Regions from separate parts of the Homo sapiens genome. Here region 2 is linked to region 1. A link means that fine-mapping ties the variant in region 1 to the expression of a gene that starts in the linked region. Tissue or cell type: tibial nerve. Region 1 holds a variant in brackets; the other region holds the start of a gene. All regions are shown on one strand. Distances are between the middles of the regions.

Region 1 (2,855 bases):
CAAATAGGTGTTAGACAGTACTGTTGATCACGAATACTGTCATTCTCCTCCCTGAGTAAGCATTCAGGTGGATCACATTTCCACACTCCCTTGAAATTAAGCATGGCCATATGTCTTGCTTTGACTAATAAAATGTGAGTACAAGGGGTATGTAAAACTTTCCGGTTAGAAGTATGTAAGAGCTTGTCTGCAATTTTCCATGCTGTCTCCTTTCCTTCCATACTGACCAAGAAGTTCTCTGAGAGGATGGTTGCTTCTAGAGCTGTCTGGAATATCAGCCAACTTTATATGAGCAAGAAATAAATGTTTGCGTGTCATACCACAGCCTAGCTACTTTCATATTCATGTATATCTTGCAATATTATTTTTCTTAACATCGGTTCACTAATTAAGTAACTTTATCTAGAAAGAAAAGTACAATGAGATATCATCTCAATCTCACCCCAGTTAAAATGGCTTGTATCCAAAAGACAGGCAATGCCAAACATTGGTTAGGATGTGGATAAAAGGGAACCCTTGTACATTGTTAGTGGGAATGTAAGTTAGTACAGCCACTATGGAGAACAGTTTGGAGGTTCCTCAAAAAACTAAAAATTAAGCTACTGTATGATCCAGCAATCCCACTGCTGGTTGTACACCCAAAAGAAAGGAAATCAGTATATCAAAGAGATATCTGCACTCCTATGCTTGCTGCAGCACTGTTTACAATAGCCAAGGTTTGGAAGCCACCTAAGTGTTCATCAACAGATGAATGGATAAAAAACTGTGGTATATCTACACGATGGAGTACTATTTGGCCACAAAAAAAGAATGAGATTCTATCACTTACAACAACATGGATGGAACTAGAGGTCATTATGTTAAATGAAATAAGGCAGGCACAGAAAGACAAATACTGCATGTTCTCACTTATTTGTGGGATCTAAAAATCAAATCAATTGAACTCATGGACATAGAAAGTAGAAGGATGGTTATCAGAGCCTGGGAAGGGTAGTGGAGGTATCAGGGGAGGTGGGGATGGTTAATGGGTACAAAAGAAAAATAGAAAGAATGACTAAGACCTACTATTTGATAGCATAATGGGATGACTATAGTCAATAATAATTATATATTTTAAAATAACTTAAAGGATCTATTTGGATTGTTTGTAACTCAAAGGATAAATGCTTGAAGGGATGGATACCCCATTCTCCATGATGTGCTTATTTCACATTGCAACCCTGTATCAAAACATCTCATGTACATAATAAATATATACACCTACTATGTACCCACAAAAATTTTAGAAATAAAAAAAGA[T/AAT]TTAAATTCAAAAAGGAAGAAAAGTATATGCCTACTTTAAATGTATGAGGTTGGTGCAAAAATAATTGCGTTTTTTTTTTGGCACCAACTTCATAATATTAATATTCTCTGTTATAAAAGAGCTGAGTCTAGGGTTTGATTAATCTTTGTTATAAAGAGAAATTAGCAAGAATTACTGTGATAAAACATAATAGCATCAAATGAGATACCTCTTTGATATAATCGGAAGTATGAAAACAGAATTACCTTCACATTATGTAGTATTTAGTGTTATTTAGTGCAGTATACAGTACTACCTAAAATCATGGTGTGTACTATTGGTGGCACATATCATGCTTTTTAGGGAAACACTGCTTTTATTAATCTCTTTTATTTTCTAGGGCTATAATTTTCAAATAAGATTAGATTTTCTTCTTTTCTCTCCTAATCTTGCAAAGTATTTCCCCATGGCAGATACCTTCACAAGAGTCACACAGACTGCTTATTTTTAAATAAAATGTACAAACAACTAGAAAAATGTTAGCTAACTCCTGGATTAAGATCTTCATGCTGCTAAAACAATAATTCCTTTTTTTTCTTTCTCAAATGTCTTTCCTTCTATTTGAGCCATTTTGCTCCAATTTTTTATCTCTTAAAACATGCTTTGGCCAGGCACAGTGGCTCACGCCTGTAATCCCAGCACTTTGGGAGGCTGAGGTGGGTGGATCACGAGACCAGGAGATCGAGACCATCCTGGCTAAGATGGTGAAACCCTGTCTCTACTAAAAATACAAAAACAAAATTAGCGGGGCGTGGTGGTGGGCGCCTGTAGTCCCAGCTACTCGGGAGGCTGAGGCAGAAGAATGGCATGAACCTGGGAGGCGGAGCTTGCAGTGAGCAGAGATAGTGCCACTGCACTCCAGCCTGGGTGACAGAGCAAGACTCTGTCTCAAAAACAACAACAACAACAAAAACAAACAAAAAACAACAACAAAAAAAACATGCCTTTGGCAAGTGAGATAGTGACTTCATAGAGTTTATACATTTAAGTTAATTGATACAAAGAAGTGAAAGTCAAAGAATACTGGGTAAAAACCAACAGGGAAGTGGGAGGTGGCAATGAGATGGTGAATAAGAGCATGAAGGGAAAGAGTTTTATACTTTCAGAATGGCTGGCTTTTATTAACAAGAGACCTGCAGGGCCAGGATCTCTAGCCATGCATCCTCCAGCATAAGAAACAATTCTCTAATGATGCATCCTTTAAACAGCAGTCTCTGTTTATCTTTGACTCTAGCTTTCACAATGCTGCACTCCAGCATTGTGTGCAGTCTCGGCAAAATATTCCTCCCCTAGCCAAAGCCTGTGACTTAAGCTAGGGAAATAGGATTCCATCACAAGAGAGTAGACTTGGAGCACAATGGGGCAAGAGCAGAAAGAAAATAAATGGAGCCAGTTCAGACCAGAGGACCATCCTGACAAGCCTGACCATTAGTTTCTGCTCTGTGCATCTCCAGAGTCACTCTGGTTTCTCAGATATTTTTGCTTTTCTTTATTTTGTTCTATCATGGTTCTTCAT
Region 2 (2,671 bases), 100 kb after region 1:
TCCCAAAGTGTTGGGATTACAGGCATGAGCCACTGCGCCCGGCCCTATTCAATTCTATTTAGTCACTAAGTATGAAAAGTATTCAGGTTTTGCTAAGCCAGGGTCAAACACTCCCCACATCCTAGTTTAGAGTGCTTAGATTTTCCCTCTTTTTCATGCAATTTAATGAATGTTAAATTAGCATGAAAATTAAATGTTATTTTTAAACTCCCTAAAACTTTAAAATGTTGCTAAGTTATTTTTCCAAATGTATAAAATGACCTCATTTTAATAAAAATAAACTATCTCAATGTAGGTATATGATACGTATTTGTAGTGAGAATAGAAAACAGTCCAGAAGAAGCAGTTATTACTTTTTGAGGTGGATCGGAGTGGGAGGTTCTTGCTGCGGGCACTGAACAAACTACTCCGTTGCAATGATTTTTGCTCTTCACAAGTCAGCAAGGGTTTTCGATGATGCTATTCTTCACAGAAATGTGACCTACATGATTTAAAGGCTGATACAAGTAAATATTGGTGGATGAGGAGCCCCTGTCCTTGTTGATGCATCTCTCAAGGTTGATTTTGAGTTAGAGGTTTGCTCTGTCCATACAGACTTGTTTTTCTCCCTGCTTAGAACCAGCATGAAAAGAACGCAAGAAGAAACTTTGGTCTTATTCAGATCACATTTTAAAAACCTGAGCTAGCATGATAAGAGCAGTTAAAACATATTCTTTCTAAAGGCACAGGGTCCCAGACACCAAAATAACCATCCATTCCCTAACCAACTGATGTCTCTCTGCTGTACGTGGTAAATTAAAACTACATGTTTTACAACGTAAAATAAAGGGTGCCCCGAATAACAACTAGGTTCTTTAAAGTTAGTGTTTTGGGGGAAGCATGGGGGCTTCTTTGTAGCACTCCTTTGAAAACTATTTCCGAGAAAGCTCCAATACAAACACCTTTTTCTTCCTAAGGAATCAACCTTAGGGAATCAACCTTAAGGAATCAATCTGCTGGGCTAAATCTTCAACACCTTCCCTTTTCATCACCTTTGAGGCAGATAACCAAAATTTCTTTAAACTGCTTATTTCACAACGGGATGACAAAGGAGTGTGTGTGTGTGTGAATGCGTGTGTGTGCGTGCCCGTGTATGCCCGCGTGTACAAAGGTGTGTGAGAATGCGTGTATGTACGTGCCCGTGTGCGCCCGCGTGTGCAGTTTACCTTTTTACAAAATCCAGCATTTAAAATAGATTTTTAAATTCCCCTTTAACAAATGATTGAAAATGGTGTAATCATTTTATCTTTTGTTGTTTTTTTTTTTTAGTTCAGTAACAGCCCAGAACTGTAGTTTTGAGCCATGTCATCAAATCTAAACACGACTAGGGAAGTGGAGCGGGGAGAAACAGGAGAGAGAAACAGAAAGGAAAAGCGGGTGGGCGGTGAAGCAGAAGGCTGGGACAGTCAGAGGGATTCGCCGTCTCACTCTTACCAATTCCTCCCTCGGCACACATCACAGCATGTTGGTCACGAGTCGCAAGGTACAAGAAAAGAGCTAAGCACAAATTCGAAGAGTGAAAGCGGGTTGTGCTTCCACGCCAGCCATTTGCCTTCCGGGAAAAAAAAAAAATCACTTAGACATCTCCCAAACTCAGCTGCGGGAGCCAGCGCCGGAGCCTGTGCTGAGCTCGCAACCTACTTCTCCCTCCGCTCCTCCTCCCGTCTCCGCCAGGCTGCAGAGCAGCCCGAGCTGCAGTGCACCGCCAATCGCCCACCGCCCCGCCCTCCGTGACGTAGCAGCGGCAGGGCCTGGCAACTGACCGGCTCCCAGCTCCAGCTGTTTGACCGAGCTGCCCTTCTGCCCAGCGCAGATGCCCCAGTGACCCAGAGCCCTTACAATCTCACCTCTGACTTTCACCTCCCAAGTACAGGTTGCTCGCGGTTGACGGTTTGGTTCATTGTTTTGCTGCAATTCTAACAATTCACTGTTTTAGCTAAACGTGGAACACTGGACAATTATTTTTTGGAGGGTAAAAGAGATCAAATCTAAAAATGTCGCGCCACTGCATTCCAGCCTGGGCGACAGAGTGAGACCCTACCACAAAATAAATAAATAATATGTAATGTTACTGTTTTTATGACTAGAAAAGAAATGAGGAAAAATATTACAATTCTGATTTGGTCGTTTTCCTCACACCTTGCCCTTCCGTTCCCTTACTCAGGATAATGTGGCTTTGTCCATACACCTGCCAAGGTCCGTTTGCTTAAAATTCACAACTTTTTTTAAAACTTCTAAATAAGTTTCAACAACCTGTCTGGTTTCTCAAAATGTCTAATTTGGAAAGAGGAAAAGCCATTTAGTGAAGGCCGAACCAATAACTCAGAACAAAACCTAATAATCTTGGCTGCCTGTTTTATCCCATTGAAACAAATATAAAAAGTGGGGCCAAACTCTCCACAGCTCTCCTATATTGTGCCTCTCTCTTCCATTCTCTCAAGTGTTTCTCAGATGTGCAACAAGAGTGAAGAAAACTAAATGAGCATGCAAATGTTTGACTATTAGTAAAGAGCTCACCAGTACAGACACAGGGAGCTGGTTGGTCGGCTTGAAAATTCTCTCAGACCAAGAGAAGCCAAACAAGTTTCTGCACCCACTGAGAACGTGCTTCTGCCAGACGAGGAGAAACAAG

What was found. PIP is the estimated chance that this variant, and not a neighbour inherited with it, causes the effect.
Region 2: it holds the start of ATP10D, and the variant in region 1 is fine-mapped to the expression of ATP10D in tibial nerve (GTEx, PIP above 0.99).

Annotation. Positions count from the first base shown.
Region 1 is chr4:47,583,785-47,586,639 of GRCh38, reverse strand. All of the region lies in intron 21 of ATP10D (ATPase phospholipid transporting 10D (putative)), which reads right to left. Among named protein-coding and RNA genes, the nearest start is that of MIR8053, 67 kb to the left of the region's middle. The variant T/AAT (reference allele first, on the strand shown) is at 1,300.
Region 2 is chr4:47,484,322-47,486,992 of GRCh38, reverse strand. It overlaps ATP10D (ATPase phospholipid transporting 10D (putative)), which reads right to left and starts at 1,718. Exons shown (of 23, transcript NM_020453.4): 1 at 1,474-1,718. RefSeq lists enhancers at 1,546-1,615, 1,587-1,881.